2 separate regions of the Homo sapiens genome follow, and region 1 is linked to region 2. The links come from fine-mapping of genetic effects on gene expression. A gene starts in region 2. The other region holds a variant in brackets. All regions are shown on one strand. Distances are between the middles of the regions.

Evidence for each region.
Region 1: its variant is fine-mapped to the expression of ZBTB20-AS1 in whole blood (TOPMed, PIP above 0.99).

Annotation. Positions count from the first base shown.
Region 1 is chr3:114,386,214-114,390,610 of GRCh38, reverse strand. It overlaps ZBTB20 (zinc finger and BTB domain containing 20), which reads left to right. Exons shown (of 12, transcript NM_001348800.3): 8 at 1,506-1,606. It overlaps ZBTB20-AS1 (ZBTB20 antisense RNA 1), which reads right to left. Exons shown (of 9, transcript NR_038993.1): 8 at 3,032-3,188; 9 at 1,633-2,215. Among named protein-coding and RNA genes, the nearest start is that of ZBTB20-AS1, 37 kb to the right of the region's middle. The variant C/A (reference allele first, on the strand shown) is at 1,659.
Region 2 is chr3:114,349,320-114,353,716 of GRCh38, reverse strand. ZBTB20-AS1 (ZBTB20 antisense RNA 1) reads right to left here and starts at 1,906. Exons shown (of 9, transcript NR_038993.1): 1 at 1,761-1,906. It overlaps ZBTB20 (zinc finger and BTB domain containing 20), which reads left to right. Exons shown (of 12, transcript NM_001348800.3): 11 at 1,839-3,443.

The DNA of each region.
Region 1 (4,397 bases), 37 kb before region 2:
GGGGTAGACAAAGCCTGAGGAGAGGATCTAGAGGAATGTCTACATTTAGAGAACAGAAGAAAGAAAATAAGCCAGTGAAGAAGGCAGAATAGCAGACTGAGGTATAGGGGAAAAAATAGGGTAATTCGGTGTCCTCAGGGTTAGAGCCTATGGAAGAAAATGGAGCCTTTGCAGTGAAGGACAGAGGGAATGCTCAGAACATGCCCAGATCAATGGGTGTCACTAGAATACATTAAGAACTAAGCAATAAAGAGAGAGACTGAAATGAAATCAAGAATATCAGAAATGTGGTAAAAGTACACAATGGAACACTATTCAGCCTTCAAAAAGAAGGAAATCTTGTCATTTGCAAGAACATGGATGAATCTAGAGGTCATCCATGATATATGGGGAAAAAATAGGCTTTTTTTTGTACTAGAAAAGCCAGGCACAGAAAAACAAATACCACGTGACCTCACTTATATGGGGAATCTATAAAAGCTTAATTTATAGAAGCAAAAATTAGAATGGTGGCTGCCAGACGCTGAGGAGACATCAGTCAAAGGACACAAAATTTCGGTTAGACAGGAGGAATAACTCCAGAGATGTACTGTACATCCTCATGACTATCGTTAATAAGAATGTAGTATATATTGAAAATTACTGAGAGTAGGTTTTACGTGTTCTCACCATGAAAAAGTGATAAATACATGAGGTAATTCTTTTTTTTTTTTTTTTTTTTTTGAGATGGACTCTTGCTCTGTTGCCAGGCTGGAGTGCAGTGGTGCAATCTCGGCTCACTGCAACCTCCGCCTCCCGGGTTCAAGCGATTCCCCTGCCTCAGCCTCCTGAGTAGCTGGGACTACAGGCGTGCGCCATCACGCCTGGCTAATTTTTTTGCATTTTAGTAGAGACGGGGTTTCACTGTGTTGGCTGGGATGGTCTCGATCTCCTGACCTCGTGATCCTCACACCTCGGCCTCCCAAAGTGCTGGGATTACAGGTGTGAGCCAGCACACCCAGCCGGTAATGCATATTTTAATTAGTTTGATTTAGCCATTCCACAATGTATACATGTATCAAAACATGTTTTATACCATAAATATATACAATTTTTATGTGTGAATAAAAAATAAATAAATATAATAAATGAAAAAAAAAAGAAAAGGATACTAGAAGAATCAACTGTGGGAAGGTTGAAGGACACTGTTTCTACTTCCTTCCCCCACTGTCACCCACAACTCAGCTTCTAAGTCAGAACCACAAAATCAGCTCCGCCCGCACTGACAGGGTACTGTTGATGTCCCAGGCTGCACAGGCAGTTAGGTGAAAGCACTGAAAATGGAGCCTGGACAACATCCTCTCCATTCTCCCTTCCGTACCTCGCCATTCTCTGGTGCAAAGATGTAGAACCAAACAACCAACCTCTCACTCAAGTCCCAAAGTTCTTTCCTATCAAAATAAATAATTGCCATCACCATCACCTGTTCATTTAACAACCTTATTTTTGTTTTTTGTCTGATCTAGATGCAGCCGCTCTCTGCTCCCTGCCCCAATGAACATCTGCACTAGGCCCAAGCCTTGGAGTAATTTACCTGAAGAGTGACACCATTGATTTTGAAACTACTGTGAGTACATTATGTCTCCAATAAAAGGCTTCTTAGTTCACTTTGTTTAATA[C/A]ACACACACACACACAGAAAATTGTGAAAGCAGGCAAAATTTTAGATGGCTTCATTTCTTGGATCAGCAGGGTAACCAGACTCAGTCCTGAGGTGCCCACAGCGGTTCTCAACTTCCCGGCTGCAGTGCACACCATGTGCATTATCATTCCCTCCTGGCCAGATGGCTGTGCTGAGCTGTATCTGAGCACACCTTGCAGGGACTGGTGCTGTTCTGCTTGGTCATCTGTGCCTCTATGTACGGTGGTGGCAGCTTCTCCTAATCTGTTTGCTTCTCATCATCCTTCCGTGCCACTGTTGAATCTCATGGTAGCTTGTCATTTCTTGCCACCCTGGTCAAATCTGTGACCAGCAGCTTTGCTTGGTTTTATTTACCTGTTGTCTGAGCTGCAACCCATGCTGTTGTCTCCTTGCTGCCCTTCCCTTGGAGCTCTGGCCTCCTTCCACCACATCTCTAAGCCACTTGTATCCAGCTCACCTCTGCTCTCTGGATGTATGGGTCTGTGTAGTTGATTTAGTTCCCGCCATGCAAGGCATTTATGTAGGAGAAGTAGAGACCTTGCAAGGAAAAGTACAGAAATAATTTGGGGTAGGGGATATGATACCTATGGGAAAATACTGATGAAAGTTTGATATCAAGTATTCATTAATCATTGCTGAAATAACAGATGAATATATGCTATTTTCCAATAGAAAAGCCAGTCATTTGAATTATTTAGAAGTTCTGCATGCAAAGTAACTTAATTACACATTTTAAAACAATAACTAGTTGTTATATTCACAAGTTTTCCTATATGTTATGAGGCAGGTAATGGGATGGTGTTTTACAGACTTCTATGTTACTGGAAAACGCTAAACCTGGGAGACTAACATCCCTCTTAGGCTTCAGGTAGGATATTTACATTCATATTTCTATGTCTTTAGCTATTCTGGTATAAATCAAACCTAAAGGGATGAAGCCAGAGTTTTGCTTTATTTTGTGTTGCTTTTTTACCTTTAATGCTTCCAGTCAACTGAATCATAGTTGATGGGGGCTGCTGTGTAGGTGATAGACAGGCCTGCCTTTCCCGGAGGGGAATGTGTTCTATAGTACTAATAGGACTGAGTTACTGGGGACTAAAGACATGACAGAAGATCAAACATAGTTTCTTCAGTCCACACCCACACAAGGAACTTACTTGTATATACCTTCATTCATCCTTAAGTTCAAGTGCAAGGAATACCCGAGAAATTCCCACATCTGGATAGTTTTCTGAGTTTTTCTTCATCACAGAGTAACTATGCTGATACAGATAACACAGCCTTACTATGATGCAGATGGGTTTAAAAGTTTCTATATCCTTTAAGAGGGAAAAGAGTTCTTATCACTCTTACCTTCCTGTGCTACAGAGAACCCAGATCCAGACCTAGAAATCAGGAGCTGATGTTGCCTACAGATTACAGAGAAGTCCACAAGTGAGCATGTATTCCTGTCGTAGGAAGTATTTCATCTGTGCAGAATGCCAGTGCCTGCTTTTACTTCTCATGGGCCCTAGAGAATGGACAGACTGGGTTATAATCTTTGCAGTCTTTGCTATTCAGAAACTTGGCTTTCCAATGCATAAAAGAGAAATAATAATAATAAAACAGAAACTTGCTAGGTGCAAAAATCAATAAAGAGGATAAAAAATTAAAATGTGAATCATTTACAGAAGTATATCTCTTCTGGTGGGTTGACAATGCTTCGGGCCTAGTCACAAGGCTTGGAAGTGGGTTGGGGAGGCACATATTAAATTTTAATACCTACCCACCCCCCCCATACCACCTGCACAATAATGCTCAGTGGCCCTGCCTACTTAACCAGATTATTGTGATAAGTCAATGAGATGATATATATATAAAGTCTGTCACGGCAGAGGTGAGTATATTTACTCAGTCATTTAAAATTTGCTGACCATTTACTATGTGCCAGACACTGTTCTAGGAACTAGGAATATGGCAGCAAGCAAAACAAACAAAAATCCCTGCTCGGCTGAGCAGCATTCTCTTTTCTTGCTCTGTGAATGGCAATTCGACATAATAGGTACATGGAAGCTAAGACAGAACCTATTTTATTTTGTTCTGTCTTTCCTTCCAGAAAGTATAATTGAAAGTATAAGAGAGAAGAACACATATGTTGATTAGTCTTGCCACCCCATTCTACCCCCAAAAAAACCCCAGAACCATTCTTTTGCCCTGATGTGTGACCCAGAAGACTGGCCTTCTGGACTACATTACCCAGGCTCTCTTGTCCTTGGGCTTCCCTTTGAATTTGGCCAAAAGGAGACATCAGCAGGAGATGTGAAAGTGGGGGAAGAGAGAGGTCAGGAAATGTGTTAGTTCAGCCCTCCTTCCCAACTCCAATTCTGACTGGACTCAGAATTCATCACCATTTTACTTGCCCCTTCAGTTTAAATGGTTTAAAGCTTTCCACTACTGCTAGTACCTGGCAGTCTCTACTATTGCTAGTACCTGGTGCTATCTCTCTTGAGGTCCCTTAACCTCATCTGCAGCTCCAAATACAGTTTTTTCATTAAATCCTCTTTAGCTAAAAACTTTGCATGTGCCATCTATTTTTGCCAGGATCCTGACTGATACAGTTAAGAGGAAATTATACTGAAAAAAAAATTATAAATCAGCCCTGCCAAGGTTAAAAAAAATAAGATTGAGAAAATAAAATGTGTTTAATCACTAAAATATCTTAAATTGATGTGAGGACATC
Region 2 (4,397 bases):
ATGTATGTATGGCGAACTCAGCAAGAACTTGAAATTTGGTCTGCTGCTGATTGAGCTCCTGAACAGCCCTTCCTGGGTTATTTGTGCCTTCTTTTGGGGCCATATTTTGTGTTCACATGGTTACAGGGGATTTACCTTAATTCTTTAATCTGGCAAAGAGAACTTGTCTTATATAAGTAAAAACGATGGAATCTGTAGCCTAATACAATATTTTAGGCACATAACAGACCTGATAGAGTCAGAACGAGAAAGAATGCTCTTATACAAATTAGTGCAAATTGTATTATTGAACATTTATTAAGTTAAGCTCATACCATGTGAGGGTGATTGAGTGAAGCAAGGTAGAAACGCTCATTGAACTCAGAGTTTCCTGAACAAGTCTTCTATCGCAAGGTAGAGCGGAAAGAGTTTGAGGAGGTAGGCCTTCTTCCTATCTGCAGGCTGTTACCTCTCAGGTGGCTTCTCACAAGACAGAGAGATTTGGGTCCAGGCCAACAATCAGTGCTTGGGCCATTTGGTTTTGAAAGCCCACTTATTTCACTTTCCCAAGCTGATTGTTCAGTTGTAAAGGCAAGAATGGGGAATCTGATTGAAGAATTATTTGGAGGGGGATTCTCTAGAGCCATCTGAGAGATGAGCTAGAAAAATAGAAAAGCCCTAAGATCTACTGCTGTAGCCACCTGTTTTCTTTCTCATTCTGAATCCAAATCTTATCAATAGTATCCCTTGCCATAACAGCCTACGTTATAGGGTGGCGCTGGGTCAGGCTATCCGCAGCCTCCACATAGCTGTTGCCTTCCTCCTGGGAGCTGTTTAATACTTCCCTGTGGCAAGTACATAAAGCACCCTATTACCCAAGGAGATCATATATCCCACTTCTGGCTTACTCCTGCTATCCTGGCCTAATTATTAACAATGCTCTCTTTCACTCTTGAAAGTGCCCTGTTTGCATAATAAATATGATCACCAATGTACTGTAGTCTCCTGGGTCAGAACTGCCATCTCTGACCTTTTTAACATTCCTCCTTCATTAAGCCTCAGAAAATTCAGAAAACCTTCCATATCACATGCAACCACCCTAGAAAGTGCTCAAACAGGTTGTCAGAGATGACAAGAAGAATGAGTAGATACAGAAAGCAGCCATGGAGTGCCCCTTTAGCTAGCAGATTGCTTTCTGTAGCCCATCCATCATCCGGAAAGCATGATCATGACTGTTTGGTAGATATCTTAGTCTGGGTTGAATTTTCCAATAATTTTTGCATACATGGTGTGGGTTTTGATAATATGCCATATGACTTAATAGGAAGGGGGTTTATTTGTTAACTATGAATATGGTCACTGTGTATGAATAAAATAAGGGACTTTGATAAGTTGGGGGAAATGTAAACTTTCCCAAAGAATCTGGGCTTAGGCCTGTCTAAAGTGAAGGCAAAGTAAATAAATACATAAATAAAAATAAAGTGGAGGTTTAGTGTTCCATAAGAACAAGTCTTCCATTTGCCTTTCAGTTCTTTGCTGAAGCTGTAGGAATAGCAGGCAAACAAATCATCTGGTTATTAGGCCACTCTACCTCAGCCGAAGCTCTGGGGAGTTAATATGGATACCCAAAATGGCTGCGGCACTAAAGGCCGGAATTGGAGCAAAATTCAAGGTCCTTTTCCCTCAGGTCATCGTACCTACAGCTTGTATGCCGCAGCCTGTCCATCTCCCCACTTGCGTATGTAAGGGCAGTGCTTCTAGGAGCCATGAGCATTACTCACCTGAAACCTAGGTGTTAGGAATGCAACCAGCTAGATCTGACCCATGCCCTGTTTTGTGTCTGCGTTGACATGCTGCAGGTGACATCAGTTGCAAGGGGATGACCGAGCGCATTCACAGCATCAACCTTCACAACTTCAGCAATTCCGTGCTCGAGACCCTCAACGAGCAGCGCAACCGTGGCCACTTCTGTGACGTAACGGTGCGCATCCACGGGAGCATGCTGCGCGCACACCGCTGCGTGCTGGCAGCCGGCAGCCCCTTCTTCCAGGACAAACTGCTGCTTGGCTACAGCGACATCGAGATCCCGTCGGTGGTGTCAGTGCAGTCAGTGCAAAAGCTCATTGACTTCATGTACAGCGGCGTGCTACGGGTCTCGCAGTCGGAAGCTCTGCAGATCCTCACGGCCGCCAGCATCCTGCAGATCAAAACAGTCATCGACGAGTGCACGCGCATCGTGTCACAGAACGTGGGCGATGTGTTCCCGGGGATCCAGGACTCGGGCCAGGACACGCCGCGGGGCACTCCCGAGTCAGGCACGTCAGGCCAGAGCAGCGACACGGAGTCGGGCTACCTGCAGAGCCACCCACAGCACAGCGTGGACAGGATCTACTCGGCACTCTACGCGTGCTCCATGCAGAATGGCAGCGGCGAGCGCTCTTTTTACAGCGGCGCAGTGGTCAGCCACCACGAGACTGCGCTCGGCCTGCCCCGCGACCACCACATGGAAGACCCCAGCTGGATCACACGCATCCATGAGCGCTCGCAGCAGATGGAGCGCTACCTGTCCACCACCCCCGAGACCACGCACTGCCGCAAGCAGCCCCGGCCTGTGCGCATCCAGACCCTAGTGGGCAACATCCACATCAAGCAGGAGATGGAGGACGATTACGACTACTACGGGCAGCAAAGGGTGCAGATCCTGGAACGCAACGAATCCGAGGAGTGCACGGAAGACACAGACCAGGCCGAGGGCACCGAGAGTGAGCCCAAAGGTGAAAGCTTCGACTCGGGCGTCAGCTCCTCCATAGGCACCGAGCCTGACTCGGTGGAGCAGCAGTTTGGGCCTGGGGCGGCGCGGGACAGCCAGGCTGAACCCACCCAACCCGAGCAGGCTGCAGAAGCCCCCGCTGAGGGTGGTCCGCAGACAAACCAGCTAGAAACAGGTGCTTCCTCTCCGGAGAGAAGCAATGAAGTGGAGATGGACAGCACTGTTATCACTGTCAGCAACAGCTCCGACAAGAGCGTCCTACAACAGCCTTCGGTCAACACGTCCATCGGGCAGCCATTGCCAAGTACCCAGCTCTACTTACGCCAGACAGAAACCCTCACCAGCAACCTGAGGATGCCTCTGACCTTGACCAGCAACACGCAGGTCATTGGCACAGCTGGCAACACCTACCTGCCAGCCCTCTTCACTACCCAGCCCGCGGGCAGTGGCCCCAAGCCTTTCCTCTTCAGCCTGCCACAGCCCCTGGCAGGCCAGCAGACCCAGTTTGTGACAGTGTCCCAGCCCGGTCTGTCGACCTTTACTGCACAGCTGCCAGCGCCACAGCCCCTGGCCTCATCCGCAGGCCACAGCACAGCCAGTGGGCAAGGCGAAAAAAAGCCTTATGAGTGCACTCTCTGCAACAAGACTTTCACCGCCAAACAGAACTACGTCAAGCACATGTTCGTACACACAGGTGAGTGTCACCCCACCTGGAGGCCTGGCAGCAGGGGCTGAGGGGGCTGTGGGAAGGCAAGGTAAGAGAGCAGGTAGAAGGGAAGGTTTGGGATCATCTTTCAGATTTTAAACAGACCCCACCACAAGCCTCTTCTAGAAACCCCAACTGTGTTCCTCCCATCATAAGAACAAAGCACCCTGCCACCAAGAGACACCGTCACAGGAACCCTTTATGGAGAAGGGATGTCCTAGGGATGTCCAGACTGCAGAAGAGAAGACTCAGGTCATTATATAAGCCATATTCAAGTATTTGTGTTTCAGAGGCAGCATACTGTAGTCAGGAAGAGCTTGAGCTCTTACACCCAGCCAGATGGCCTGGGTGTAAATTCAGGCTTAGCTACTACTAAACCTTGTCGCCTTGGAAAAATTACTTAACTTGTCTATACTTCAGTTTCCTTGTGTATAAAATGAGAATAATCGTGATACGCCTTCCTTATAGTGCTGTTTTGAGAATAAATTAATACATGTGAAGTCTTTAGAGTACTTCCAAGCATATAATAAGTGCTCTATAAGTGGTAGCTATTATTAAGATGGTTAAGAGGAGGAGACATTCAGTTTGTATAGTTTGGCTCCAAAAGGTGGAACTAGACCAATGATTGGATGCTATCAGGAGATCCTTTCCACAAAATAAAAGAAAAATTTTGTTAACAATCAGATCTGCTCTAATATCAGATAGACTGCCTTTAAATGGAGTGAGTTTCTGTAATTAGACGCATTCAAGGAGAGAATGGATGAACATTTTTAGGGATTTTGTACACAGGATTCAGTCATCAAGATGGGCAAGATCATGTTTCATCCCTGGATTCTATGATTCCAGAGCTAAGATCTTCTGATCTCTCAGCCAATCCTTTTTCATAGCTCCATAGTGGTACAGAGATATGGAATTCCCATAGAATTGGGCATTCCATGGATG